Linked DNA regions of Homo sapiens. The protein of the gene in region 4 purifies or fractionates together with the protein of the main gene of each other region. This does not show direct contact. Each region holds a gene or a part of one and is shown on either strand. Other genes may lie near its edges. The genes, in order: COL5A1, KPNA5, KPNA6 and PTPN2.

What was found.
Region 1: the proteins of PTPN2 (region 4) and COL5A1 purify together in Homo sapiens (affinity purification with mass spectrometry; 3 studies listed by BioGRID and IntAct, with this or other methods). This does not show direct contact.
Region 2: the proteins of PTPN2 (region 4) and KPNA5 purify together in Homo sapiens (affinity purification with mass spectrometry, with the first as the bait; 2 studies listed by BioGRID). This does not show direct contact.
Region 3: the proteins of PTPN2 (region 4) and KPNA6 purify together in Homo sapiens (affinity purification with mass spectrometry; 3 studies listed by BioGRID and IntAct, with this or other methods). This does not show direct contact.

Annotation. Positions count from the first base shown.
Region 1 is NC_000009.12:134,812,803-134,819,906, reverse strand, and holds part of COL5A1 (collagen alpha-1(V) chain isoform 1 preproprotein), read right to left. Parts: intron 5,925-7,104; coding exon 5,871-5,924; intron 5,111-5,870; coding exon 5,003-5,110; intron 4,332-5,002; coding exon 4,278-4,331; intron 3,973-4,277; coding exon 3,919-3,972; intron 2,882-3,918; coding exon 2,828-2,881; intron 2,130-2,827; coding exon 2,076-2,129; intron 1,252-2,075; coding exon 1,144-1,251; intron 1,060-1,143; coding exon 1,006-1,059; intron 908-1,005; coding exon 854-907; intron 493-853; exon of another isoform or gene 1-492. UniProt on the Homo sapiens protein: Type V collagen is a member of group I collagen (fibrillar forming collagen). It is a minor connective tissue component of nearly ubiquitous distribution. Type V collagen binds to DNA, heparan sulfate, thrombospondin, heparin, and insulin.
Region 2 is NC_000006.12:116,732,631-116,740,648, reverse strand, and holds part of KPNA5 (importin subunit alpha-6), read right to left. Parts: 3' UTR 1-8,018. UniProt on the Homo sapiens protein: Functions in nuclear protein import as an adapter protein for nuclear receptor KPNB1. Binds specifically and directly to substrates containing either a simple or bipartite NLS motif.
Region 3 is NC_000001.11:32,110,589-32,118,606, reverse strand, and holds part of KPNA6 (importin subunit alpha-7), read right to left. Parts: intron 1-8,018. UniProt on the Homo sapiens protein: Functions in nuclear protein import as an adapter protein for nuclear receptor KPNB1. Binds specifically and directly to substrates containing either a simple or bipartite NLS motif.
Region 4 is NC_000018.10:12,810,760-12,818,777, reverse strand, and holds part of PTPN2 (tyrosine-protein phosphatase non-receptor type 2), read left to right. Parts: intron 1-1,412; coding exon 1,413-1,622; intron 1,623-4,422; coding exon 4,423-4,575; intron 4,576-8,018. UniProt on the Homo sapiens protein: Non-receptor type tyrosine-specific phosphatase that dephosphorylates receptor protein tyrosine kinases including INSR, EGFR, CSF1R, PDGFR.

The DNA.
Region 1 (7,104 bases), on a different chromosome or scaffold from region 4:
AAAACAGACAGGGAGCCACAGACACTGAGACAGACCAAAGTGATAAAGGGGTTTTCCTGAGTGGTAATGTTTATCTCTGTCTTTCTCTTCGTATACGCTCTCCAATTTCCTATGGCAAATCCGAACGCCTGCTCCTATACGGAACTAAAACAAAGTTTGTGGACTGACACGGAAAGAAAGATGCAGAGTATTATAGATATTACAATCATGGGTTGTTTTTCTAAAAAAAGAAGAATCCATGACACTCGCTGTCTATGTTTGTCTTCTAGGAACCCAGGGCAAGCCTCGCAAGGCAGCCCCAGCTCTCATTTGCCTTGGGGCTGGGGGCAGTGGTGGCGGACGTCAGAGTGGAAATGAGAGGGCCCTCACTGCCTTCTGCTTCATATACAACCATCTCACTCCTGAGTACCTTTTATGTTTGTAAATAAATCAATGCAAGTGGAAAACAATTCCCAGCAGTTAGAAAAATAAAAGGGCTTTGCTCCCACTGCAGAAATGTCCTCACACCTCCTGCGGAAAGGATCTGGGGCCGCTCAGCCCAGGGAGAGCAGCAACCTGGGATCCTGGACACCCATCAGCCGGGGCCTCTGTGCCTAGCTGGAAGGTTCTCCGTCAATACCGCAGGGGCCTCCGGGATCTCCCGAGCTGCTCAGGACCCCCCAGAGGCAGGGGCCAAGCCTCAAACACAGCGTGTCTATTTTCCTTTGTCACCCCTCAGGTTCCCCACCACCAGCCTGCAGCAGGTGCTTGACACATTTAGGTGACGGATCAAGAGCTTGTTGAGTTTGAGACCCACGGCCACAAATTTGAAGGCCCCGAGTCACAGTTGCTGGGGCAGGGAGGCCCCTCTTACCTTTTCACCTTTGGGACCAGAATCTCCTTTGAGGCCGGGAAGTCCTGGGGGACCCTGTGGGAGGAGGCAGGGGGATCAGAGTCCTCATCCTTGGGGCTTTGGGTGGCGAAGTCATCCCACCCGCTATGCTCACCATGAGGAATGTGACTCACCATGGGGCCGGGGGGACCGTCCGGGCCTGGGGATCCTGGGAGACCTTGTTCTCCCTGAAACACAGAGACGCTCTGCATGAGTTGCTGGTCCCCCGTCCCTCCACTCGGCAACCCCTCTGCCCCTCACAGCCTACTCACCACAGGGCCAGGGATCCCTCGAAGGCCATCCGGTCCGGGCTTCCCAGGGGCCCCCTGGGGGCCGATGGGGCCAGTCTTCCCAGGAGGGCCTTCCAAGCCGGCTTCTCCCTGCAGGACGGCGGAGGGCAGAATGAGGTCCGGAGCTCTAGGCTCCAGGCACCCTGGCCCAGGACCACTGCTCGGAAACCCTGGGCACCTCTGGAGGAGTCCCAGGTGACCCCATATCCGGGGTTGCCCTAATTCTCCACATTTCATTGCCTGTGGAAGCTGCCCTGGTCAAGTCTCCATCCCGATCATCTCCCAGGCCAGCAGGGATCCCGTCTCCGCTGACTGCGCCGACCACAGACCGGGTGTCACAGCGCCACTGCCCGAGCAGGGATGGAACCGCACAACCTCCCGTCTCCTTAACAACAGGCGCCTCCAGGAGGGAGGCAGACAGTGCCAGGCCGGGCCGCCATCACCTCACTGACAGAATAGCCTCCCGTGTGCTCTGGGCCAGGCCCCAAGCCAACTGCATGGGTGACGGCGTCCCATCTTCTGCACGGGCCCCGCAGCAGACACGGTCACCATCGGACACGGTCCACTTCAGAGGTAGGCGGCTCAGGTCTGGCCGACTCAAAGACCAGGCATGAGGTCGCAGGGCTCCGGGGGACATAACTACTCAGCCTTGGGCTCCCTGAATCCCGCACCCACCACCCGCCTCCTCCCTCAGGTGGGCAAGGCAGACGGCCCCAGTCTTGTGGCCACCACTTGGCTGCCTCCTTGAGAGAGAACCAGGTCTCCTCCCCAGGTAGGCCATGAGCCAGGTGCCCCTGGGGCAGCCACTCTCAGCCTCCATGGACATCTCTGCCCACACGCTTGTCCACTCCCCACCCTCTGGGCTCCCCTGGGGGAGGTCTACGCGGTCACAGCCTGGCTCCAAAACACGTTACCTTGGCCCCTTTCTCTCCCTGTCTGCCTTCGGGGCCTGCGGGGCCTGGGGGACCCTGAAAGAAGCAAGAGAACAGCAGGTGGTGAGTGTGGCCTGCAGGGGTGGAGGGACGAGCTCGGGTGCAGGCGCTCAGGGTGTGTGTGTGTGTGGCCTGCAGGGGCAGAGGGACGAGCTCGGGTGCAGGTGCTCAGGGTGTGCCGGGCTGCAGGGCAGGGGTGCAGGGTCATGGAGGCTGCTCCCGGGCCACCCGCAGTGACACGGGTCCTCAGCATGAGTCCTATGGACTCCAGTCCCAGGTAAAGGCCTCTCAGGCCACGTGGGGAGGCGCAGTGCACGCCGCGAGTTGTGTGTGGCCTCCGTCCTGGGTGCACCAGGCAGCTGTTTACTGCCCCACCAGCAAGTGGCTGGACCATTCAATCTGCAAAAGATGCCTTCTCATTTGTTCTGGCTTTTCAGTAAAACCTGAGCCAGGGGAAAAGGACCTTTGCAGCTTTGCGGGTGTCTTTCTCCCACCATGGATATCACTGACCGTGTCAGCAGGCGGCCTGTCCTAAAAGGAGCAGCTGCGTCGACCTGGCAAGCCTGTGATTAGGTGATGATGTGGCCGAGGCTAAGTGGAGAACATGCCACACCCGAGCCCTTCCTCATCAGTGCAGCTTAGAGCACCCAGGGCCCAAGCAAAGGTGACGGGGAGGGGCGGGGGTGTTTCATGCAGGGATTTGACAGCAAGGATGTGCCTGCAGGATTATTTACCCTTTTTCCTGGAGGCCCCGATGGACCTGGTTCACCAGTAGGGCCGGGGGATCCCTGGTATTGGGAGAAAGAACAGAGTGTGAGGAATTGGGGCCCGTTAGACTCAATTGAGGCAAAACACATGGCGATTTCAGTCTATTTACTCCTCGGCCAGCCCTGCGGCCGCCTCTCTCTTCTTTTGGGGCTAGCACAGAGGGTCCTAAGACAGTGTCGCACCCGGGCTGTGACAGCGTAAGGAACCCCAACTCCCATCCTGCGGGTTTTCTGCATTTTGGAAGAGAACTTCCCCACTCACAGTGCTGACTCTTGATACACAATGACGGTTCGGTCCCCACCACAACCTGGGCAGGGACGAGGCACTGGCATCCCCTTTCACAGAAGGGGGGACAAGAATCGTCCCAGGACACAGGCCGGGAAGTGGTGGACTGGGGGTGTCTGTCAGGGAAATCCAGCCCGAGGCTAGATCCCTAACCCCTTCTCTGAGTGGACGCTCCTCTCAACTCAGTGACATGGCCTTTGCCCTCAGGTCCGCAGTCCCCCGCGCTTGGCCAGGCTGGGTGCAAGGTGGGGCAAGGGCATCTGCAAGGCCTCAGGGGCCTCCTCCAGGCCCAGTCCTGCCCAGGGCCCATGGGGGTCGATCCGTCCCAGAAAGACGTTCTGGGCTTGAAGCGGTGTTTAAAACACTCAACGCCAAGCGTCAGATGCAACGTCCAGTGTGATCTCGGTCAAGGTAAGGCAGGAAGGGCCTGGTGAGGAGAGGCACTGGCCCTGCTAGGCAGAGCTGTGGGTAAGATCTGACGTTCCCGGGCGAGCCCATGGTGGGTCGTGGAAGCCCTGGGGCTGCCTGCAAACCTGCTGCTGAGACAGCACGTGCATCTCAGAGGGAGTTCATGAGCTCTGTCACTGTCCAGAATCAATATCATAAGGGAATCAACATCATAAGGGAATCAATATCATAAGGGAATCGATATCATAAAGGAATCAATATCAACTAGGTTGGAGTTTTTCCCAGAAATGAGTCAAGCAAGCTGCAAGGTCCCAAGAATACACTGACACCTCCACCAGGAAGCCAGCCCAGATTGTGGACTCACCGTCTGCCCGGGTTCACCATCATCTCCTTTGTCACCAGGGGGACCATCTTGACCCTATGGAGGCAAAAGCGAGCTCCTTGCTGAACCCCGGATGGCACCCTGAGTTCATGCACCAGTTCCCAATGCATCTCCAGCCCCTTCCCAAAACCCAAATCCATTCTGGTGCCAGCACAGAGCATGGTCAGTGGGGTCAAAGGCGTTTTCTTGCTCTGATCACCGGAACACGAGTGCCTTTTGGGACATTGCCTGCCCCAGTGGGAGTTCATCACAAAGAACCACCAGAAAGAGGGGAAATGGGGCTGGCAGAGGCAGGCCAGCACTGTGGGGGATCCGGTGGCTTTGCCCTCTTGAGCACCTACCGCGGGGCCAGGCTCTCCGGGGGGGCCAGGATCTCCAGGAAAACCCACTGGGCCCTGAAAGGAAGAAAGAAGGAAGCAGCCAAGGCCATCAGCAACCTGACTGAGACCACACACGGCCAATCATGTCACCACCTCAAGATGGCCACCTGCCACCGTCCAGCTCCTAAGACTTTCCAGCAGTTCCGACAACCCAGTGCACTTTATGGCCCAGAGACCCTTCCACGTGCAGCATGTCCCAGAGCCAGCAAGCCTGGCCAGTGGGCATGGCAGGGGTCAGCTGGTCTCTTGCTTTCCAGAGCCAAGCAAGGGGCAGGCGTTCCGCCCACAGGTCTATTCCTGGGAGCTCCAGGCTGCAACTAGAACCTGGACCTTCAGACTTCCGGAATGTGCCTCTCCGAAGCCCCTCCTGATGCAAAATCAGGGCCGGCCAAGGGCGGGGGCAACTTCCCAAAGCCTGGCTGTCACTCGTGCATCTCAGCCGGCCGCCTGGCCCACAGAGAAGAATCACTCAGGGCTTTCTCCTCCAGTCCACGCCCTGTCTCATCTCCACTATTTTGGTTCAGTAGCTGGTATGAAAACCTCTAGTGTCTAGAAAATTTACCCAACACATGGAATGGTCTTGAAGCTGTTCTCAGAGCAGAGTGCACCGCCAGTGAGTCAGAATGATCCCAGTGCAGAGCCCCGCCCCTGCTGCAGGGCCCCTGAGGTGTGTCTGGAATACTCACAGGGCTGCCTTTGGGACCATCATCTCCGGGAGGGCCTTTGGGTCCAGGGGGTCCGGCAGCACCTGAAGGGCCTGACTCGCCCTTCTCTCCCCTTTCTCCTTTGGGTCCCTGGAGGAAAGAGGCCAGTGTCAAGTCCTCAGAGCCAACCACGTCGCCGCCCAGAGCAAGGTGGGCCTCCCCGGTTTTCTCACCCCATTCAGACCAGCCTTTCCAAGTATCTGCTGAGCCCTGCAGGGGGCTGGCTGCCAGGTCGCTCCCCAAGCCCTGGGCAGAATCAGCTCCTGTGTGCACCCTGAGGGGGACCTGAGGAGCCTTCACTTTCTGGGGCCCTCAAAGCCTGAGATTCAGCTCTGGGTGGGAGGGACTGACTCCTGGACCAGACATCAGTCAGTGAAGACCACAAGGGGTGCCCACAGACTCCACGGATCTCATGGGGAGGGAGCAGCTAGAACCAGAAGACCCGAGTCCACCCAGCTGGTCCTGGGCCTGAAAGCCACCTTTGGGCTGGCCTCATAGTGAACATTCATCTGGCCTGAGAAGGCCTGGATATTCCTAGTCTGGCCCTCAAGGTCCGGGGGGACGAGGTGACAGCAGCTGCCCCGCGAAGGGGCCAGGAGCAAACACTACAGAGGGTAGAGTTACTGCAGGCCACTGGGCACAGGTAGCTATTGCTAGGTCTGCGTGTACATGCTGACTCCCACATCACACACCTTGTTCACGGTCATTCCATGAAATGGGCACAAGAGGGGTTACAACTCCCATTTCGTGGATGGAAAAGCTAAGGCAGAGCCAGAGCCTCCAACCCAGCACCCCGTCCACACACCCGCTCGGCCATATCCCACCCCTCCCGCAGCGCCCGCTCACTCACCGGGGGGCCGCCTTCTCCCGGAAGGCCAGGCTCACCTGCTTCGCCAGGCTCGCCCTAGGGAGACAGTGCATGTGGTTATGGCAGCGGTGAGCACCGCGATGAACGCAGTGCTACGGTTTCAAGCATTTGCCAAATCCTGCCTGCTGTCTGCCTGCCCCTGGGCACCCAGGACCCAGGGGTTTCTGGGGAGTGCTGTCCCCACACACTCCCAGAATTGGAGGTGCGTGAGGAATGTGGCAGGCACGTGATGGATACAGGGCAGAGTGTCCAGACTGCAAGCAACACTGTCTGTGAAGGCTTTCCCGGAGCGCTGCTCCAAGGGTTGTGGAGGGCAACTATGAGAAGCTGGTAAGTGGCTAGGATGGCACTCCAGGTGGGGGATGGCCAGGGCCGAGGCAGGAGGACAGGCACGCAGTCCTCAGGGACACAGGCCAGAGGGACGCAGGGAAGAGGGCATGCACAGTGGCAGCAGGTGAACAGAAACATGCGCCCTACAGCGGGGACACCAAGGAAAACACCGCCTCTCTGAGCAGAAGCCGCACACCATCACCCTGTGGTCTCAGCAGGGCATATTCCTCTTTAATTTCTGTATCATAAAAAATGAGCAGCGGTGGAAGGCGTCTTCCAATTTAATGGCCTGATTGATGTCAGAAAGAAAGCTCTGGAAACGGTGCACAGGGGGCTCAAGTGCATGGATGTACACTCTGTCTTCCCTCTTGTCCAGGGGAACTGGGAGAGGTGCTTTTGCAGTCAGGCAAATGCTGTCCCACCCAGCATGCAGGCACACACACATGCACCGATGTGCACACAGGAGCTCACACACACAGGCACACACACACACACGACTGGGTCCATGACGCTCATGGAGTCTGGGCTCCAAAACCAATCAGATCAAATGGAGAGGACCCATTTGAGAAAATAATTCGGCTGAAATGGAAACTGCAAGCTTAGAAACACCAGTTATTTAAGGAATAGATGATCTCCACCAGAGCTGAGTCTTGGAGGAGGCAGGGGCTTTGCTGGTGGGGCATCGTCTGGAAATTCTGCAAAAGGCTGTCACAAATGGACAGTCAGAGTTCCCAGTTCCATTTCACAAGCATCTGCCTACATTTCAAAATGCCCTTCATAGGAATAAACCAGCCATGCCCACAGAAATGAGTACTTCTCATCTCTGTGTACACACAGAGAGGTACACACACGTGTATGCACCCCCACAAGCGTGTGCATGCGCACA
Region 2 (8,018 bases), on a different chromosome or scaffold from region 4:
CATGGTGTATATGTGCCACATTTTCTTAATCCAGTCTATCATTGTTGGACATTTGGGTTGATTCCAAGTCTTTGCTATCGTGAATAGTGCTGCAATAAACATATGTGTGCATGTGTCTTTATAGCAGCATGATTTATATTCCTTTGGGTATATACCCAGTAATGGGATGGCTGGGTCAAATGGTATTTCTAGTTCTAGATCACTGAGGAATCGCCAAACTGACTTCCACAATGCTTGAACTAGTTTACAGTCCCACCAACAGTGTAAAAGTGTTCCTATTTCTCCACATCCTCTCCAGCACCTGTTGTTTCCTGACTTTTTAATGATTGCCATTCTGACTGGTGTGAGATGGTATCTCATTGTGGTTTTGATTTGCATTTGTCTGATGGCCAGTGATGGTGAGCATTTTTTCATGTGTTTTTTGGCTGCATAAATGTCTTCTTTTGAGAAGTGTCTGTTCATGTCCTTCACCCACTTTTTGATGGGGTTGTTTTTTTCTTGTAAATTTGTTTGAGTTCATTGTAGATTCTGGATATTAGCCCTTTGTCAGATGAGTAGGTTGTGAAAATTTTCTCCCATTTTGTAGGTTGCCTGTTCACTCTGATGGTAGTTTCTTTTGCTGTGCAGAAGCTCTTTAGTTCAATTACATCCCATTTGTCAATTTTGGCTTTTGTTGCCATTGCTTTTGGTGTTTTAGACATGAAGTCCTTGCCCATCCCTATGTCCTGAATGGTAATGCCTAGGTTTTCTTCTAGGGTTTTTATGGTTTTTGGTCTAATGTTTAAGTCTTTAATCCATCTTGAATTAATTTTTGTATAAGGTGTAAGGAAGGGATACAGTTTCAGCTTTCTACATATGGCTAGCCAGTTTTCCCAGCACCATTTATTAAATAGGGAATCCTTTCCCCATTGCTTGTTTTTCTCAGGTTTGTCAAAGATCAGATAGTTGTAGATATGCGGCATTATTTCTGATGGCTCTGTTCTGTTCCATTGATCTATATCTGTTTTGGTACTGGTACCATGCTGTTTTGGTTACTGTCGCCTTATAGTATAGTTTGAAGTCAGGTAGCGTGATGCTTCCAGCTGTGTTCTTTTGGCTTAGGATTGACTTGGCGATGCGGGCTCTTTTTTGGTTCCATATGAACTTTAAAGTAGTTTTTTGCAATTCTGTGAAGAAAGGCATTGGTAGCTTGATGGGGATGGCATTGAATCTATAAATTACCTTGGGCAGTATGGCCATTTTCACGATATTGATTCTTCCTACCCATGAGCATGGAATGTTCTTCCATTTCTTTGTATCCTCTTTTATTTCATTGAGCAGTGGTTTGTAGTTCTCCTTGAAGAGGTCCTTCACGTCCCTTGTAAGTTGGATTCCTAAGTATTTTATTCTCTTTGAAGCAATTGTGAATGGGAGTTCACTCATGATTTGGCTGTTTGTCTGTTATTGGTGTATAAGAATTCTTGTGATTTTTGTACATTGATTTTGTATCCTGAGACTTTGCTGAAGTTGCTTATCAGCTTAAGGAGATTTTGGGCTTAGACAATGGGGTTTTCTAGATATACAATCATGTCATCTGCAAACAGGGACAATTTGATTTCCTCTTTTCCTAATTGAATACCCTTTATTTCCTTCTCCTGCCTAATTGCCCTGGCCAGAACTTCCAACACTATGTTGAATAGGAGTGGTGAGAGAGGGCATCCCTGTCTTGTGCCAGTTTTCAAAGGGAATGCTTCCAGTTTTTGCCCATTCAGTATGATATTGGCTGTGGGTTTGTCATAGATAGCTCTTATTATTTGGAGATACGTCCCATCAATACCTAATTTATTGAGAGTTTTTTAGCATGAAGCGTTGTTGAATTTTGTCGAAGGCCTTTTCTGCATTTGTTGAGATAATCATGTGTTTTTTGTCTTTGGTTCTGTTTATATGCTGGATTACATTTATTGATTTGCGTATATTGAACCAGCCTTGCATCCCAGGGATGAAGCCCACTTGATCATGGTGGATAAGCTTTTTGATGTGCTGCTGGATTCGGTTTGCCAGTATTTTATTGAGGATTTTTGCATCAATGTTCACCAAGGATATTGGTCTAAAATTCTCTTTTTTGGTTGTGTCTCTGCCCAGCTTTGGTATCAGGATGATGCTGGCCTCAGAAAATGAGTTAGGGAGGATTCCCTCTTTTTCTATTGATTGGAATAGTTTCAGAAGGAATGGTACCAGTTCCTCCTTGTACCTCTGGTAGAATTCAGCTGTGAATCCATCTGGTCCTGGACTCTTTTTGTTGGTAAGCTATTGATTATTGCCACAATTTCAGATCCTGTTATTGGTCTATTCAGAGATTCAACTTCTTCCTGGTTTAGTCTTGGGAGGGTTTATGTGTCGAGGAATTTATCCATTTCTTCTAGATTTTCTAGTATATTTGCGTAGAGGTGTTTATAGTATTCTCTGATGGTAGTTTGTATTTCTGTGGGATCGGTGGTGATATCCCCTTTATCATTTTTTATTGCGTCTATTTGATTCTTCTCTCTTTTCTTCTTTATTAGTCTTGCTAACGGTCTGTCAATTTTCATAGGTCACGAATAAATCATAATATAAACTTTAAAATACTTAGAGCTGAATAACTTGTGGAATGCAGCTGAAATGGTACTTCAAGGTAAATTTTTAGCCTTCCCAAATTAAACATTTAACAACCTTAAATGTTTAGGGAAATTAGGGAAAGACTTAAGAATAAATCCAAAGAGAATAAAAGATTGGAAATTCTAAAATTATGAGCAAAAACTAAGGAAATAAGTAAAAAGACTATAATCACTATAACTGAATTCAGCGAAAGTGATTGAGACAAAAAGGCACCAAGAAAACAATATGAAAAATGATCAAAGCCCACATTAAACAGAGATTTTAAAAAGAACATAGATTGGTATGCTAACTTCTGCTTTAAGCCAAACTAGAGTAATAGGGACCAGGACAAAAACATGAAACAACAGTTTCCAGACATTAGACATCAGATAATGAGGAACCGTGATCTATGAAACAGAGGAAACAAACTAGTTGAGCCCTATGACTGCTCTGTCTCTTACTGCCTAGAGTTTCACGATTGCAGGGCAAGGAAGGGAAATTCAGGTATAGCCACAAAGTCTCTGAGATGGGGAGAAAGAGTTAGGAAGCCAGGGAGGACAAAACTAGAGTTCACAAGGTAGAGTACCAAATGTGACAAAACTACACAGATTGCTCCAGATTATCTGCAGAGGATTCCCCTTTGAGTCTTCAGCCAAGTACTATTGACCACATGTGACTACTACCCAAGGCCTTCTAAAGAATCACCTGAAAGCACAAGGGGAAACAATTTTTGGAGCCCACAATGATCAGGAACAGTTTAAGTTCCACTAGCCAAAGTGAAAATCCCTTGTAATTCATAGGGTAATAGAGTACTCGGAATGGTACTGACTCAGCAGTAAAATAAACGTTGTTCTGTGCCTGCCTTACAAAGTTTAAAAGCAAGCCTTTAAAGGATCACATTTTTTCCCCTAGTAACTTGTGTTAAGAAGAACAAATATGGGAAATTCAATATCCAAACATGTAAACGCATGCAAATGAAAAATACAACTCATAATAAAAAAATCAATAAACAGAAACAGAGCAAGAAATGACAGAATTAGTAGCAAGGCCATTCAAACAGCTATTATACTTGCTGTGTTCAAGCCAGCAGAGGAAAGCTTGAGTATGATAAAAAAAATGGAAGATATAAAACAGATCCAAATTGAATTTTTAAAGATAAAATACACAATGTCTGACATAAAAAATACACTAATGGAATTAAGAGATTAGACACAGCAGAAGACAAGATTAGTGAACTTGAAGACGAAACAATGAAAACTATACAAAATGAAAAATAACCAAAAATGAGCAAAGCATTAATAAGCTGTGTGAGTATTTCAGGCAGACTAATATAAGCGGAATTGGAAATGAAAAAATGTTTAAATAATTGCTGTGTTTTCAAATTTGATGAAAACTATAAATCCATGGATCCTAGGAAGCTCAGCTAACTCCAAGAACAAGAATTGGTTGCTTTGGGGTGTAAAATATGCATTTAAAACTTTGTGTTACTCTCACGTGATTTAAAAAACATACTGTAGCCCTGCACTCCCTACTGAGCACTTGAAATATGGCTAGTGCCAGTAAAAAAGTGAACTTTTGCTTATGGTGATGGCAGCACATCTCTGAATTTATTAGAAAATCCTATTTTTATTGCTCAAAGAAGAAACTTTGTACCCAGTCACCTCCCATTTCCAACTTTCCCCAGTCCTAGATACTAATTTATTTCTGTTTCTATAGATTTGTCTATTCCGAACACTTCATATAAATGGAATCTGGTTTCTTTCACTTAGCCTAATGTTTTCAATGTTCATCCATGTTGTACCATATATCCATATTTCATTTTATTACTGAGTAATATCCCATTTTATGAATATAACATTTTATTTATCCATTGGCTGATGAACATTTGTTTCTACATTTTGACTATCATGAATTGATCCCTTTATCAAATGACCCTCTTTATCTCCAGCAATAAATATTCCTTGCTCTGAAATGCACCTTGATATGCATTATATGGCCACCCCAACTTACTTTTGATTTGTGATAGCATGGTATATCTTTTTTCCACCCTTTTCACCAATTTGCTTCTTGAAAACATTTTCTTAGAGGCAAAATACGGCCTTACTTTTTTATTAAAACTGATAACCTCTGCACTTTAATTGGCATGTTTAAATCATTAGTAATTACTGTGACTACTGATATAACTGAGTTTGATCTTTCTTGCTATTTGTTCCATCTTCATTTGTTTTTTCTCTTTTTCTGTCTAGTTTTGGATTAGCTATTTTTTATAATTCTATTTTTTCTCCTTTGTTAGTTTTAGAAAGTAAATGGATTTTTAACCAATAATAGCATCTGTCTTTGTTCTGTTAGGAAACAACAATCTTAAGAAAAAATGAAATGGACACATTTATATAAATGCAATTTTAAAATATTTTATTATTTTTAATATAGTGTTGTAACATTTCATAATATTGCATACTACTCAAAAGTTGGTTTATTTAGTAGGGTAAGAATATCTTCTCTTCTTACTCCCCAGTCAGAATTTAAAGATATACTATCCTTTTAGAGCTCTATTATATTGGCTCCTAAAATGTCACATTTCATAAAACAGTAATGCTATAAACTAAACTGAATAAAGGTTAAGAACAATTTGATTTCACAGTTTCGCAAGCAGCCAGTAGATTGCTGAATTGAGAACCATAACAAAAATTCACTAAGACTTTATATTTATTTTTCCATAATGCTCCTTCTTAAAAGAAGAAAAAATATAAAGGCAAAGGTAATATATGCTTCTTTTAGTCCCTTATCCAATAAATCAACCTTTAACTGCAAATAGGTTTTACAGTTACCAAATGATATGTTAGTTCTGTGCCAGCAGAATTTATTACTTTTTTGCTTTCTTGTTCTGGTGTTACCAGTAAGTTGACCAAATGACACTAAAATTTAAGGACACTATCACTTAAAACAACGTTTTGAAATAAAACACAGTAAAAAGACCACACCCAGTGAGTCAAGTGCTTATAAATATAAAACAAGCATAATTGCATAGATTAAATAGGAGAAATTCAGATTCAGACAAAATAAAACACCAAATTTAATTAAATAAATGAAAAGGACTCTTTCAAGTATTTTCTTGATATTTGCATTAATGCTACATGCATTCCTCTTTATAACACTTTTTTTCGGCATAGTTTCTCTTGGATTTAAATATAACAAATCTTAGAAAAGCAAGTTAAAAAAGTATTTTTCCTCCCACAAGGGCCAGTGAAGACTACTGAAAACACTTTTTGGAGCATTTTATTTATTTTTTTCTTTTCTTTCTTTCTTTTTTTTTTTTTTTCCTGGTCAGGGCTCTGCCTGATGAAATATTTTAAATGGTATACTTGAAAAGAGTAGCTATATTTTTGAAGAATTTTCATCACAAAGTTATTTGTTAGTCTTGATCCAATAAACTCTTAACAATAAGCCAAGCCAAGCCAAGCCAAGAGCTGGTCCCAACTGCTATACAGTGCTCTTTGCAATCAAATCTAAAATTAATTACCCAAGTAATATATTTAAGGAAATAAATAAAACTGTATTTAAATGCTTATGAAGTATAATCACAGTCTGTAGAGATATGTTTGTTTTACCGGCAAAATTTAAGTTTCCTTTCACAGGTCATTCTGTGTGCATGCATCAACACACACATATTTATTATTTCTCCTTCTATAAGAACTATCTTGTTTGAAAAATTTGGCTTAGAAATTTATTATAGTGACTACAGGGTCCTCAAAATAAAAGGAGGCACAGCTGGTTAGTTTATGAATCATGCTGCATTATCAATTTTAATTGACTAGAAAGAGTAGAATACCCTGTCACCTGATACTTAGAACCATCTGCACCACAAAAAGGTTAATCTGATAAATTCACCATCAATTTGGTAAGCTTTAATATAACTACCCTGTTTTTTGAATACAGATAATGCAAAAGAAAACCATTTTATACTCGGCTATATACCTTCCACTACGAAAAAAGGGGCACAGATACAATCTTCTACTTAATAATAAAAAAGGGCTGGCAGATGCACTCAGCATTACGAACACCATTTAAACCTGTATTTTACAGCTGTAGGTTTTAAGTATCTTGTCAAAAGCTTAGTTTCATGATATGTAATTTACAAAGTGACATATTCTTTAAAAGTACTCCTATATACATTTTCCTCTTGGAACGTGCCTCTGATTTCCAGCAGAAACATTACAAATACTATCATAAATGAAATCTTTTTTTAAAGAATAGACCATGAATCATATCAAAATTGCCTTAGTTCTCATCTTAAAAAGAGTTGTAAACTAAGTTTTAAGTAAGTATTCTAGGTATACAATTGGACACATAAATAGCCTACGTATAACTATAAATTAAAAGATTGAGTTCAACAGTAGTTGAACTGTGAGAGTAACACACACACATATATATGTATAAATATATATATAATTTTTCTATTGAAACCTTTCTTTCAAATTTTCCGTTTGAAGAGGTTTTTGCTGTTAAATCATAAAACATACATATTGATCAATCTGACATGAATGTAATCTATGATTCATAACAAGCAGCAGAATGACCCTCTGAGTATTACTAAAAGAAAAAAGTCTTATAGATTTGAACCATATTAAAGAACCTTTAGCAATTTTCATTATCATTTAGCATCCAAATGTTAAATGCATTTAATACAATTTAACACATAATAAGGTTATTTCTTCAGGGTAATTTTGTCATTCGAGTACCTAAACTTGTACTTGTACTTAAACTTAAACTAGTACTATTATACAGAAAATGAAACTTTTCAATTACTGCTCTGAAAAATCAGAGAAATAATTAGTTATTATTTTAGATATGCAGCACTACTTTAGATTCATGATGACATCTCTGTCATGATGCTCTTTAAAACAATGAGTGAAAAACAATAAAACACTATTTCAAAAATGGTAGCATATTTGGTTGAAATACAAAATATACTAATATACATAGCACTTATATGTTAAAAACAGAAATATTTAAACATTTTATAAAGTAATCTTTTTAATGTGTTCAACATGAAAAACAGCTTCTCCCTTCACAATTGCCACATTTTAATGGATTATCAGTATAATATTTCTTCTGTTTTATAAATAAATTTTATAGGTTTTCTGTTGCAATTTTTTGCAAAGTATAACCTACAGCACAGTGATATGTATAATTTAAGGTAATAAATATTTTCACATTCTAATTTAGCATTTGCATTATTTCATGCTTCTGAAGCTTTTTTGTTTTTATTTCTGCTTCAAGATAGAGGTAGATTTAGTAGAGATTAGATGTGTAAGACTTACTGCCAAAATGCAATTATCAATAGGTTTACTGCTAATGTGCAGTTTCCAAGAATGCTTGAAAAAATTCAGAATTACTAAGTAATG
Region 3 (8,018 bases), on a different chromosome or scaffold from region 4:
CCCAGACTGGTCTGGAACTCCTTGCCTCAACCAATCCTCCTTCCTGAGCCTCCCAAAGTGCTAGGAATACAAGTGTGAGCTACCGCACCTAACCTATACCTATTTTAAAGATAAGAAAATGAGGCTATGTAGAGTAAGTAACTGGTCAAAAAACTAATAACATGGAATAAAACAACTGTAATAGAAAAAAGGATGTGAAAAGCGCACACCACTGCACCCCAGCCTGGGAGAAAAAGCGAGACTCCATTTAAAAAAAAAAAAAGTAAGAACAAAGTGCTATAGAATTTAGGAGAGTTCATTTCCAAACTGGAAGGCATAAAGTACTTCAGAAAGGTTCATGAAGAAGGCAGTATTTAAAGTATATCTTGAAAAACAGGTGAGATGGCTGGGCACGGTGGCTCACGTCTATAATCTCAGCACTTTGGGAGGCTGAGGCGGGAGGATCACCTGAGGTTGGGAGTTCGAGACCAGCCTGACCAACATGGTGAAACCCCGTCTCTACTAAAAATACAAACAATTAGCTGGGCATGGTGGTGCATGCCTGTAATCCCAGTTACTCAGGAGGCTGAGGCAGGAGAATAGTTTGAACTGGGAGGCAGAGGTTGCGGTGAGCGGAGATTGTGCCACTGCACTCCAGCCTGGGCAACAAGAGCGAAACTCCATATCAAATTAAAAAAAAGAAAAGAAAAACAGGTGAGATTTCTATAGGAAAAGATGGGTGGGGAAGAGATTGCTTTAGCTACTTCAGGAATGCTTATGTACAAACAGCCCATATTTTGATTAGAATCATACTGAGTAAGCGTCTCTTCCATGTATTAGCTATGAATTTGCCCAAGTTACTGAAACCTCTCCATCCTTTGGTTTTCTCAACTAAAACATGAGAATCTGAGAATTAAATGAATATATAAAGTACAGGCATATCTCATTTTACTGTGATTCACCGATACTGTGTGTTTTTTTATTGTTGTTATTGTTTTTGTCTTGAGACAGGGTCTCACTATGTTGCCCAGGCTGGTCTCAAACTGCTGAGCTCAAGAGTTTCACCTGCCTTAGCCTCCCAAAGTGCTGGGATTATAGGCGTCAGCCAGCATACCCAGCCAATGTGTGTTTTTTTTAAAAAAAAAAAAACAAATTGGGCCGGGCGCAGTGGCTCACGCCTGTAATCCCAGCACTTTGGGAGGCCGAGGCGGGTGGATCACAAGGTCAGGAGTTCAAGACCAGCCTGGCCAAGATGGTAAAACCCCATCTCTACTAAAAATACAAAAAGTTAGCCGGGCGTGGTGGCAGGCGCCTGTAGTCCCAGCTACTCAGGAGGCTGACGAAGGAGAATCATTTGAACCCGGAGGGTGGAGGTTGCAGTGAGCCAAGATCGTGCCACTGCACTCCAGCCTGGGTGACAGAGTGAAACTCCGTCTCAAAAAAAAAAAACAAAAAAAAACAAATTGAAGGTTTGTGGCAATCCTATGTTAAGCAAGTCTACTGGTGCCATTTTTCCAGCAGCATGTGTTCACTTTGTGCCACATTTTGGTAATTCTCGTAATATTTCAAACTTTTGTTTTTTGTTTTATCTGTTATGGTGATCTGTGATCAGTGATATTTGATGCTAGTATTGCAACTGTTTTGGGGTGCCATGAGCCATGGTCATATAAGATGGAGAACTTAACTGATAAATACTGTGTATGATCTGACTGCTCCACCAACAAGCCATTCCACAGTCTCTCTCCCACCCTATTCCCTGAGATACAACAATATTGAAATGAGGCTAATTAATAACCCTACAATGGCCTCTATTTGTTCAAGTGAAAGGGGCAGTTGCATGTCTCCACATTAAGTCAAAAGCTAGAAATGATTAAGCTTAGTGAGGAAGGCATGTCAAAAAGCCAAGATATGGTGAAAGCTAAGCCTCTTGCGCCAGTTAGCAAAGCTGTGAATGCAAAGGAAAAGTTCTTTTTTTTTGTTGTGAAGGAGTTTCCAAGTCTGGAGTGTAATGGTGCGATCTCAGCTCACCGAAACCTCCACCTCCTGGGTTCAAGCGATTCTTCTGCCTCAGCCTCCCAAATAGCTAGAATTGCAGGCATGTGCCACCACACCCGGCTAATTTTGTATTTTTAGTAGAGACAGGGTTTCTCCATGTTAGTCAGGCTGATCTTGAACTCCTGACCTCAGGTGATCCGCCTGCCTGGGCCTCCCAAAGTGCTAGGATTACAGGCATGAGCCACTGCACCTGGCCAGGAAAAGATCTTGAAGGAAATGAAAAGTACTAGTCCAGTGAACACACAAATGTTTAAAAAAAACAACCGGCCGGGCGCTACTCAGGAGGCTGAGGCAGGAGAATGGCATGAACCCGGGAGGCGGAGCTTGCAGTGAGCCAAGATAGGGCCACTGCACTCCAGCCTCTGTCTCAAAAAAAAAAAAAAGAAAAGAAAAGAAAAAACAGCCTTATTGCCAATATGGATAAACTTTTAGTGGTTTTGACAGAAGATCAAATCAGCCACAATACTGCCTTAAACCAAAGCCTAATCCAGAGCCAGGCTCTAACGAGACTGGTTCATAAGGTTTAAGGAGCCGAGCGCAGTGGCTTATGCCTGTAATCCCAAGACTTTGGGAGGCTGAGGCAGGTGGATCACCTGAGGTCAGGAGTTCGAGACCAACTTGGCCAACATGGTGAAACCCCATCTCTACTAAAAATACAAAAATTAGCCAGATGTGGTGGCGGGCACCTGTTATCCTGGCTACCTGGGAGGCTGAGGCAGGAGAATCGCTTGAATCTGGGAGGAAGAGGTTGCAGTGAGCTGAGATCATGGCACTGCACTCCAGCCTGGGCGACAGTGAGACTCCGTCTCAAAAAGAAAGGGTTTAAGGAAAGAAGCCATCAATGTGGAGGCCAAACTCAGTGACTCATGCTTGTAATCCCAGTGGCTTTGGAGGCTGAGGAATAAGGATCACTTGAGGACAGGACTTGAAGACCAGCCTGGGCAACATGGTGACACACTGTCTCACAAAAATTTAAAATTGGCTGAGTGTGGTGGCACACACCTGTAGTCCCCAGCTACTTAGAAGGCTGACGTGGGGGGATCCCTTGAGCCCAGGAATTAGAGGTTGCAGTGTGCTATCTTGCCACTGCACCCCAGCCTGGGTGACAGACAAAAACCCTATCTTAAAAAAAAAAGTTGGGCACAGTGGCTCACGCCTTGTAATCCCAGCACTTTGGAAGGTTGAGATGGGCGGATCACGAGGTCAGGAGATCGAGACCATCCTGGCTAACATGGTGAAATCCCATCTCTACTAAAAATACAAAAAAAAATTAGCCGGGCGTGGTAGCGGGCGCCTGTGGTCCCAGCTACTCGGGAGGCTGAGGCAGGAGAATGGCGTGAACCCGGGAGGCCGAGCTTGTAGTGAGCTGAGGTCGCGCCACTGCATTCCAGCCTGGGCAACAGAGAGAAACTCCGTCTCAAAAAAAAAAGTGAAGCCGGGTGTGGTGGCTCATGCCTATAATCCCAGCACTTTGGGAGGCTGAGGTGGGCGGATCACTTGAGGTCAGGAGTTCGAGACCAGCCTGGCCAACACGGCGAAACACTGTCTCTATAAAAATACATAAATGTTCTGGGCGTGGTGGCACACACCTATAATCCCAGCTACTTAGGAGACTGAGGCACCATAATTACTTGAACCCGGGAGACAGAGGCTGCAGTGAGGCGAGATCGTGCCACTGCACTCCAGTCTGGGTGACAGAGTGAGACACTGTCTCAAAAAAGTGCAAGGTGAAGCAGCATGTGCTGATGCAGAAGCTACAGCAAGTTATCCAGAAGATCAAGCTAAGATCATTAATGAAAGTGGCTACACTAGCCAACAGATTTTCAATGTAGAAGAAACAGCTTTCCATTGGAGGAAGATGTCATCTAGGACTTTCATAGCTAGAGAGAAGTCAATGCCTGGCTTCAAAGCTTCAAATGACAGGCTGACTCTCTTGTTATGGGCTAATGCAGCTGGGGCCTTTAAGTTGAAGTCAATGCTCAATTACTATTCTGAAAATCTCAGAAGCTTAAAACGTATGCTGAATCCACTGTGTTTATGCTTTATAAATGGAATAAAGCCTGGATGACAGCACATCTGTTTACAGCTTGATTTACTGAATATATATATATATATATATATTTTTTTTTTTGAGACAGAGTTTCGTTCTTGTCGCCCAGGCTGGAGTGCTGTGGCGTGATCTCAGCTCACTGCAACCTCCACCTCCCAGGTTCAAACAATTCTCTTGCCTCAGCCTCCACAGTAGCTGGGATTATAGGTGTGCACCACCACACCAGGCTAATTTTTTGTATTTCTAGTAGAGACAAGGTTTCACCACATTGGCCAGGCTGGTCTCGAACTCCTGACCTCAAGTGGTCTGCCCGCCTCGGCCTCCCAAATTGCTGGGGTTACAGGTGTGAGCCATTGCGCCGGCCTAATGTTGTTTTCCCACCTGTTAATACAACATCCATTCTGTAGCTATACAGAATCCATCCATTCTGTATGAATTAAGGAGTGATTTCAACTTTCAGGTCTTATAAAAACATTCACGATTCATAAGAAGTCAAAATATCATAAATAAGAGTTTGGAAGAAGTTGATACCAACCCTCACGGATGACTTTAAGAGGTTCAAGACTTCAATGGAGCAAGTTACTGCAGATGGGGTGGAAACAGCAAGATAACTAGAAGTGAAAATGTGATAACTAGACAACTGAAAATATGATTGAATTGCTGCAATCTCACGATCAAACTTGAATGGATGAGCAGCTATTCTTACGGGTGGGCAAACAAATGGTTTCTTGAGATGGAATCTACTCCTTGTGAAAATGCCGTTAATCCTGTTGATAAGACAATAGGCTGGGCAAGGTGGCTCACACCTGTAATCCCAACACTTTGGGAGGCTAAGGCAGGAAGATCACTTGAGCCCAGTTCAAGACAGGCTTAGGCAACACTCTTTAAAAACAATTTAAAAAATTAGCCGGGCATGGTGGTGCATGCCTGTAGTCCCAGCTACTCGGGAGGCTGAAGTAGGAGGATTGCTTGAGCCTGGGAATTCAAGGCTGTAGTGAGCTGTTGATAGCACCACTGCATTCCAGCCTGTGTGACAGAGTGAGACCCTGTCTTAATAAATAAAAAAAACATATATACATACATACATACACACATACATGAAATGACAACAAAGGATTTTTGGGGTTTTTTTGAGACAAGATCTTGCTCTGTCGCCCAGGCTGGTGTGCAATGGCACAATCATCTCACTGCAACCTCAACCTCCCAGGTTCAAGTGATTCTCCCACTTCAGTTTCCTGAGTAGCTGGGACTACAGTCACGCGCCACCACACCCAGCTAATTTTTTAAATGTTTTTTTAGAGATGGGGTCTCACTATGTTGCCCAGGCTGGTCTGAAACTCTTGAGCTCAAGCAGTCCTCCCACCTCATCCTCTCAAAGTGCTGGCATCATAGGCGTGAGCCACCAAGACCGGCAGATTTAGAACATTACATAAACTTAGTTGATAAAGCAGTGGCAGGGTTTGAGAGTACTGACTCTAATTTTGAAAGGTCTATGGCAGAGAGAAATGTTATCAAACAGTATCACATTACAGAGAAATCTGTGGTGAAAGGAAGAATCAATTGATGTGGCAAATTTCATAGGTTGTTACTGCCACCCCAGACAATCACCACCCTGATCAGTCTCAGCAGCCATCAACATCAAGGTAAGACCCTCCACCAGCAAAGATTACAGCTCACCAAATGGCAATTTTTCACAATAAGGATTTCTTAATTAAGATATGTACTTTTGGCTGGGCATGGTGGCTCATGCATGCCTATAATCCCAGCACTTTGGGAGGCTGAGGCAGGCAGATCATGAGGTCAGGAGTTCAAGACCAGCCTGTCCAACATGGTAAAACTCCGTCTCTACTAAAAATACAAAAATTAGCTGGGTGTGGTGGTGGGCACCTGTAATCCCAGCTACTCAGGAGGCTGAGGCAGGAGAATGGTTTGAACCCAGGAAGCGGAGGTTGCAGTGAGCCGAGATCACGCCATTGCACTCCAGCCTGGGTGACAGACAGGGCCAGCCTGTCTCAAATAAATAAATAAATAAATAAAAGAGGTACTTTTACTCTACATATTATTGCACACTTAAGAGACTACAGTATAGTATAAAGATAACTTTTATATGCATTGGAAAACAGAAAAATTCATGTGACTTGCTTTATTATATTTGCTTTATTGCAGTGGTCTGGAACCAAACTTGCCTTAGCTCTGAGGTATGCCTCTACTTAGAAGAGTACCTAGCACATAGCAAGTTCTATACAAGTGTTGGGTATTATTATTATTATAGCTTTCCCATCTCTGTCTTTGTTTGTGGTTCACACATTTTGGTGCAACCTGGGTTAAAATACAAACTGGCAAAAAATAATAAAATAAAAGCTGGCAAGTCTCTTTTAAATAAGGAAGGCTTCTCCACAAGTTCCCCAGGCTTCCCTTCCCATCTAATTAGCAAGAACTGCATCATATGCCCATGCCTAAATCAATCACTGTCTAGGGAGCTAGAGTTACAATGATTGGTTTAGAGTTTATATCAAGACCCACCCCTTGGGGTAAGGAAGGGTGGCCAGATTCCCAGTTAGCACAGTAGTAGTAATGGTGAAAAGACAAGTAGTGTCTGCCAAGACTCATGAGGTTGTAGTCTCTGCTAGAGGGTCAGAATAAAGCAATCTCCAGAGCTACAAATATCACCCCTACAGGGCACCTAGTGGCAGGGAAATCACTGCAAAGGTCTGTTAAGGGTAATGAAGTTTGGCATAGTAGAAATAGTGTAGGATATACGACTGAGCTAGTAGGATACAGACTGAGAGTACACTTAAGAGGCAGTGAAATACGGCAGGTTCCGTACTTGTGGGCATGTGAAGGCAGGCTGTGTTAGTGTCTCCAGTGCCCAAAGGATCCAGAATACCAGCCTTGGACTAGTCACCTAATCTTCTCAAAGCCTCAGTTTATAAGTGTAAATGGAGATAACCCAAGATACCTTAGATTAGATGTTAGAATTAAATGAATGCATTAGTTTGGTCTACAACAAACAAAAAGCTGACATTCATAAAGACAAGCTACGATGAGGGAGAGGTACCTGAGATGGAGCTGGAAAGAGGAAGTTACCTGACTCTAGGCTAAAAACCCCCTTCAAGACCTTGGTCAGGGTTTGTTGCTCCACTGAAGAACTTTCATGTTGAACTGTACCAGAATAGGACTAACTTTATTTCTTAACTTCTTAAGTCTTATAGATTTATGTGCTGCAAAATGGGTAAGAATCTTACTCCTGGCTTTGTGGCTTACTGGCTGTGTTATCTTCTCCGAGACAGTTTCCCAATCTATAAAACTGAGTAAATCTCTACTTATTTCACTGAGCTTATTAAACATTAGTTCCTTCCCTTTGAGGCAACAGTGTTTCTGAAACTGAAGACCAATATAAAATTTATAACAAAGTTTATAACATAAAACCCCCTAAATTTTTTTCACTGAAAGATGAAGCTCCAGCTACTAAGAAAGGCCTATCAGTCTTATTACTCAATAGGGAAACCTGGAAACCAGAGTGCTTAAGGGAAAGGAACATTATTGAAAGTGGAAAAGAATCTGTTCTGATATTCATGGAGCCCTTTAGGCTCCAAACACTGTTATCTGTTTTTTGTTTGTTTATTTGTTTGTTTTTGAGAGGGAGTCTAGCTTGTTGCCCAGGCTGGCATGATCTCGGCTCACTGCAACCTCCGCCTCCCGGGTTCAAGCAATTCTCCCTTCTCAGCCTCCCAAGTAGCTGGGATTACAGGAGCACGCCACCATACCCAGCTAATTTTTGTATTTTTAGTAGAGACAGGGTTTCACCTTATTGGTCAGGTTGGTGTCGTCCTCCTGACCTCAGGTGATCCACCCGCCTCGGCCTATGGGATTATAGGCCTGAGCCACCTTGCCCAGCCCAAATGCTGTTATCTTATTTAGTCCCCAAATATCT
Region 4 (8,018 bases):
TAATTTTGAAAATTTTTATTGGGAGCAGGATATTATAATAATAATCTTTAGTTGTTAAACCATTAAACATCAAGGTTTTTTACATTGTTTCTATGCCTCCTCCCTCAAAAAAAAAAAACCTCCTACAATAAAACTGAAAAATTGCACAAAGACATATTAGTGGAAGACCACTGCTTCGTTTACACAAATGAAGAGTATAAAGCAGAGAAGTGCTCCTTGGGGCAAAAGGCAATTGGCAAAAAGCTAAGGAACATTTTCATAATGAGTTAGAAATACAGATCATCAGGAATATCCAGGAAGCGATAGTGAATACCAGGCAGGCTTAAGAGACAGGAAACATTTAGCATGTTGGTAAACCACTTTAGCACATCAGCAAAAGCATATAAACAGCTTTAGGATTGGAAATTATTGCCATGGGGAAAGGCAACAATTTAGAGGAGCAATTCCAATTAAAAATATAAAGATCGTTTCTTTAGATTAATTCTTGAGTTGCTCCCCTATGCCTGTGTAGCAGAATCTAAAAGATAATCATGTGAACGGGAGATTATATTTAAAAAATAAACTTTGAAATTCATAAAAAGGAAAATGTTAAAGAATGTAAAATTATACTGGTAGAAAAAAAATTTTTTTTTTTGAAGATGGAGTTTCACTCTTGTTGCCCAAGCTGGCGTGCAATGGCACGATCTCTGCTCACTGCAACCTCCACCTCCCAGGTTCAAGCAATTCTCCTGCCTCAGCCTCCCAAGTAGCTGAGATTACAGGCACGCGCCACCACGCCTGGCTAATTTTTTGTATTTTTAGTAGAAACGGGGTTTCACCATGTTGGCCAGGCTGGTCTCGAACTCCTGACCTCAAGTGATCTGCCCACCTCGGCCTCCCAAAGTGCTGGGATTACAGGCATGAGCCATTGCACCCGGCAGAAATTTTTTAAAATAGAAAAAAATAGCCCATTCATGATACATGAATTAAAGAAAATATTGGTAACATGTATGGTAACAGATTAGTAGCTGAGAACCCAAAGGCTGCCCCAGGTTGCTTCAAATCCTGGTTCTGCCATGTTCCAGCTGTGTGACCTTGGGCAAACTATCTTACCCTTTGTTTCAGTTTCCTCATCAGGAAAATGGGCTTTAATAGGATTATTGTGTGGATTGAGTTAATAAGTAAAGTGCTTAGAACAGGCCTCCAAAATAGTAAGTGTTGTATGCGTTAGCTATTATTAATACATCACAAATTTCCACTAAAGAAAATCTTCCCTAGTTTGTATATGGGATTGTCAGAAAACAAATGGAAAAATCATAGTATAAACAGCCTATATGGCTTTAAAGAATTATATAAAACACATGATCTTTCTGAAGTAGTTTTTTAAAAGAAAAAAGTTAGAACTAACTTCTCCCTTGATTTTCACTTTTTAGAGTGGTGAAACCAGAACAATATCTCACTTTCATTATACTACCTGGCCAGATTTTGGAGTCCCTGAATCACCAGCTTCATTTCTCAATTTCTTGTTTAAAGTGAGAGAATCTGGCTCCTTGAACCCTGACCATGGGCCTGCGGTGATCCACTGTAGTGCAGGCATTGGGCGCTCTGGCACCTTCTCTCTGGTAGACACTTGTCTTGTTTTGGTAAGTGCTTCTTACGATCTCATTTTAATCTCATTGATTTTTTTTTTTAAATTGCTTCCACTGGCAGTGAATAAACTCTGATGCTGTATCCCAGAACTGAGGTTTTTCAACTTAAACTTCTACTTTTGGAAAAACCTAAAAATCTCATTTCCACCGTTGCAACTGCCTCTTATTCATGACTGGTAGGAATGTATCCATGATGATTTTAGAGATCCCTAAGAAGGTGTTTTTCTTCCTGGTAGCTTTATATTACAGAAATAATAGGTCTCTCCCCCACATTTTTTCAAATATAAATTCATATGTAATATTGAATTCCTTCCTCCTCAGACAGATACTTTATCTCATTTTTTAAATTTAAAAACTAGGGATAATGATAGACATACTTCACAGGGTTCCTGTGAGAATTCAATGAATTAATACATTAAGGAGACTTAGAAGAGTCCCTGATGTTTTCTGAGCATTCCATAAATGTCAGTATTACTGTTACTCCCCTGAGGTTCCTGTCTGTGCCCCCAACGGCTAATTCTTTCTCCACCAGTCATTCCCAGTCCCAGCCTGTATACAGCCTAGATCTTTTCTTCTCTTTTTAGGACCTTTATTTTTTCGTTACTTGGGATACATGAAACTTCTGTTTGCCCTTATACTTCTCCTAACTTCTGTCTTTACTTCTTCCTCTTATTATAGGATCAAACCCAACAATAATACTGTCTGCTTTGATTTCCATGCCATCTACTCCTTCAGTAGTCCCTGCAGCTTAGTTTCTGCTTTCTGAGCGTGTTCTAAGATTATCAATAACCTAAGCAGTTTAGCTTGTCCTGGTATTCAGTCTGGTGGGGATTTTGTTTTTGTCTTTGTTTAGACAGAGTCTTGCCCTGTCACCCAGGCTGGAGTACAATGGTGCAATCACTGCTCACTGCAGCCTCAACCTCCTGGACTCAAGTGATCCTCCCACCTCAGCCTCCCAAGTAGCTGCCTGCACCACCACACCCAACTAGTTTTTGCTTTTTTATTTTTAGTAGAGACAAGGCCTCACTATCTTGGCCAGGCTAGTCTCAAATTCCTGGGCTCAAGTGATCTTCTTGCCTCAGCCTGCCAAAATGCTGGGATTACAGGTTTGAGCCACCACGCTTGACACAAGACTGGTGTTCTTAACCTTGACTTTAAGGCCCTGTATTAGTCTCTTCGATGTTTCTGTAAAACGTAGCTATGCTTCATTGCAGTTATGTCAGCATTCTTATGCTTTCCACCATGACTGCCAGCACAAAGTAGATTCCCAGGTGAATTAATATGATGATGCTTTTCATTGTAAACACACACACAAGGAGCTTGATCAATGGAGTGATACTCTTGGAAGGAGTGATACTCTTGGAAGAACATTTCAGACGTTGCATCTCTAATGAAAGCTAGGAATTGGGAACGGTTGAGTCTTAACTAAACATCTGTATTACTTTACCACTCTGCGTATATATAGTATACTTCAATCAAAATTAGATTGTTACATCAAAGTTTTAAAACTCTGGTGATTATTTTGTTAATGACACCTGTTCCCTGCCAACTATAACTTCAACAATTTTTTTTCTTTTATTTTTGGTGAGCCTGGGTGTGGGGATTCTAACACTAGGTCAGTAGTCCAGAGCAGTGCTGTAGCTCAGCAGTGTTATCGTGGATCTGGGCTTTTGCTGTCTTTTCCACCGTCTTTCTTCATTTTATTTTATTATTCTATTTATTTATTTATTTATTTATTTGAGACGAAGTTTCGCTCTGTTGCCAGGGTGGAGTGCAGTGGTGCAATCTCAGCTCACTGCAACCTCCGCCTCCCGGGTTCAAGAGATTCTCCTGCCTCAGCCTCCCGAGTAGCTGGGACTACAAGTGCGTACCACCATGCCCAGCTAATTTTTGTATTTTTAGTAGAGACGGGGTTTTACCATGTTGTCCAGGAAGGTCTCAATCTCTTGACCTCATAATCTGCCCACCTTGGCCTCCCAAAGTGCTGGGATTACAGGTGTGACCCACCACATTTTTATTTATTTATTTATTTATTTATTTATTTATTTATTTATTTATTTATTTTTGAGATGGAGTCTCGCTCTGTCGCCCAGGCTGGAGTATAGTGGCACTATCTGACCTCACTGCAACCGCCGCCTCCTGGGTTCAGGCGATTCTCCAGCCTCAGCCTCCAATGTAGCTGGGATTACAGACATGCGCCGCCACACCCAGCTAATTTTTGTATTTTTAGTAGAGATGGCATTTCGCGATGTTGGCCAGGCTGGTCTCTAGCTCCTGGCCTCAAGTGATTTGGCCTCCCAAAGTGTTGGGATTACAGGCATGAGCCATCATGCCTGGCCTCTTTTCCACCATTGTTAGATGGGTGCTGTATATCCAGACATCGTGTCTGTAGTGCAGACATGAAGGAGGCGGAAGGGGAATGAGCAGAAAGGTTGACTCCTGCCATGACTTTTAAAAAAAAAAATAGTCCTTATACTAGCCAGAACTGGTTATAAATCCTTCCTTTAACCAATGACTGGCCAGAAGGAATGAGATTACTATGATTGGTTTGGAATCAGTTGTGAATCAGCTAAAGAATCAAAGTCCTCCAACTACTTGAGGGGTTGAGATGTGGGGAGGGATGAGTAGGCTGGGATAGTTGTTGTGTACATAACAGTTATAGCTGGAGGGTTAAATTATCGTTGTTCTTTCAGAGGAGAAAATGCATAGCAAAAATCTTAGCAATGATCTTGCATTGATTCTGTTTCCTGGGTTCCAATAACAAGACTTGTCTCATTTTTTGCCTTTCTTGCAGATGGAAAAAGGAGATGATATTAACATAAAACAAGTGTTACTGAACATGAGAAAATACCGAATGGGTCTTATTCAGACCCCAGATCAACTGAGATTCTCATACATGGCTATAATAGAAGGAGCAAAATGTATAAAGGGAGATTCTAGTATACAGGTAAACTTCATACAGGTTTTAAATCATATCTATTTGTTAAATACACATAGCATCAAATAACTGCACTCCACTTGAGCCCTTGTCTTTGTTTCAAAGAGTGTATTTGAATTTTTGTGGTAAATCCAGCTGGCTGTCTTAAAATTGTAAAATTTTAGCTAGCTTCCTCATATATACTCAGCCTCAGGTTAAATCCTGTGTGTTACTTAAAAGCCCTTGTAGAAACAAGATTTCATTAAAGAAACTGAATTTTTCATTTTGGGGGTGGTTAATCTTTTAATTATTAAAGTAACTGGAAACTTGAGATACTTTTGCCTTCATTAAACACTGATACTTGGTTTATGTGATATTTGACTTTATAACAACAAGCAACTTGAATATTTATGGCAGATATAATGAAATTCCAGCAAAATGTTATATTCTTCTGGTTGGTGGCTTTATTCTCATTAAGCTATTTTTACTGCATATTTGTAGAACCTAAGTTCAAAGACTGATCAGAAACTTGTGTTATGTACTAAGTTAAAATGTAAAATAGAAACAACCACAGACTCCATTTTTTGTCTGGTTTAATCACATAGTATTGGACATAAGCAGATACTGTAAGTTGATGCATAATATAAGAAGATCGACTGTCTTTTCATTATGTTTCTCATGTGTGAACATATTTACTAGCACTTTCATTTCTCTGATTACTAGCCAATATAAGAATGTAAATTAGATCGGACCATTGGTGTCAGAATAAAGGTTTATTTAAAAAGATTTTTTCCAAATCTTTAAATAGCATTAAAATATTCTTAATGCACAGAAACATTAGGGCACTCAGAGCCAAAATACGCAATGTTTGGGAAACTCAGCCCATTAGAACATGTCCTGCTTCAGACGCCAGACTTTGGGAACACTGGATTTGCCAGGGTCACTTTGGCAGTGATCAGTGATTTAGGTGAAGTAAAAGTTATTTCAGATGTTTAAGATTAGGAAAATTTCCCTTTCTAATCACAGTGAGCTTTCACCAACTTAAATCTGGAGTTCAAAAAGAAAAGTAGTTCAATCAGATTTCCCCATGCCTTCACAGCCTGCATGCCGCCTTCCCTGCCTGCTTCCTGGCTGTGATGAGACGGGTAACTGGGAGGGAAATGTATTGTCCTTTGGATTGTGTCTTTCCTACCACTGCTTTTTTTTTTTTTAAGTTTTGTGTCTTTAGTTTTAGAATACATACTTTATCTGAGGGTGGATCTTTTTTTATCACAGAGATGAGTTTTTCTGGACACACTTTTTTGTGGAGTCTTTGACAGTGCAGTTTGTGGCTAGGAAGGATTTTTTTTCTGTTAATTTATCTGGTGTGATATTGTCCTCAGGCTCTCAATTCTAAGGCATTTTCTGCCCCTATTCCAGATAGGATATTGGAAACATCTTTATCCTTCAGGTACTCAGGATCAGAAAAGCATGCTGCCCATTCCAAGGGGTTAATTTCTGCAGAAATGGTCTTGGCATTCTGAGAATCTTTTTTAATTGGTGCATTTAGACCATCGGCATATGAAGTGATTACTGATAAAGTTGGATTAATAAATACATACCACACATGCTACTGGTTTTTTTTTCTTTTTTTGAGACGCAGTTTTGCTCTTGTTGCCCAGACTGGAGTGCAATGGCACAATCTCGGTTCACTGCAGCCTCTGCCTCCCAGGTTCAAGTGGTTCTCCCCACTCAGCCTTCCGAGTAGTTGGGATTACAGGTGCCTGCCACCACTCCTGGCTAATTTTGCATTTTTAGTAGAGATGGGGTTTCACAGTGTTGACCAGGCTGGTCTCGAACTCCTGACCTCAAGTGATCGCCCACCTCGGCGTCCCAAAGTGCTGAGATTACAGGCGTGAGCCACCGCACCCAGCCCAAAGTGATTGTATCTTAAGTCTGTAAATATGTGTAATTATAATCTTAAAGCATGTATTCATTTACAGAAAACTTCCAATGACTTTGACATTCCTATAGACATATAGGCTATTTGCAATTGCCTTTCAGCACAAGGTCAGGCATAAATACTTAAGCTGGTTGCTGGTATTACCACATATTTATTAGCATATTCCCAGTATTGATGATGACAGTTAACCCCCCAGAGTAAATATCTAGTTTGGCAATTCAGAACTAATGTTGTAAGATCTCTAGCTGGTAATTTGATATTACTAATAAAGTATTAAATGTAAATGATAAACTTTTAACAAATTACAGAGGATTTGAAGTTTAATTGCATTGCTTAAAGCTTTCTTCAGTGAGAGAAATGGGTAGAGCTAGGGTTCTAGGCATTGTGTGGGGGGCATGGCTCCTAGTGGCAGTGACTCATGGGTTGGTGCAACGTGAGCACAGAATTAGAAAGAAAGATGAAACAGTACCAGGCCTCAAAATGAGAGCTCCTTTGAGGTTATAGTTTAGTGAAATGTAATTCCTTGGCTTCACCAGTCAGCATTAATGACCTGAGGCAGGTGACTCAGGAGTGCTGGCTCCCTTGTGTGTCACAGGGAGGACAGAGACGAGTGAGTTTGCTGAACCTATATAGGCATGAGTGAGTTTGCTGAACATAGGCACGAGTGAGTCTGCTGATCATAGCCATGAATGAGTCTGTCGAACATAGCCATGAGTGAGTTTGCTGAACATAGCCATGGCAAAATGACATTGTTGGGTTTGTGGGGTTTTTTTAATTCACTAGCATTAAATATCTCTTTTATTTCTCTCTCTGCCGAGTGCTTTCCTTGTTGACGTATTCTGAATTTGTTGCATATTCTGGGAAGTGGTCCAGTGAGACTTGATTTTTGGTGTCATCTTATTTGTTGACATTGTTGAGTGTTGTCCAGCTATAAGGCCAAGTTACATAACTAGGTCTCAGTCAAGAGTGGAAACTTCAAAAATTGACCAGTGTAAATTCTGGAGACAATTTAACATTTTTGTGGGGTACTTTGTTGAACACACATCTTTATAAGGGGTCACAGCATAGTCAACCCAGACTTGCCTAGGTTAAAATTCTGTCTCTACTATTTGTTAGGTGCATATCCTTGGGCGAGTTACCTAATTATTCTCCCCACATCTTCCGTAAAAAGGGTGTAATAATGGTAATATTAGTATTAGTGCTTATCTCCTAAGGTTATTGTGAGGATTAAGAGCTAGCACATTTGAAGTGTTAGAATATGGCATGGAGAGTAGCAAGTACTCCATGTCTTCACTATAAAAGATTTGGATTGAGTAACAAAACAAACAAGGGAACAAAGAAAATAGACAGTCATCTAAGTGAAGACATCCTTAATTACTCCTGTGTTCCATTATATTGTAGTTTCTTGATTGTTGGCACAGTATTCTTTCGGGGACATGGTTTGCGCCCTCTTAGGGCTCAGGATTTTCAGTTCTACCCCACTACTCATGAAGTCCAGAGACCTCTTTCCCGGAGGTCTATTTCCTTTCCA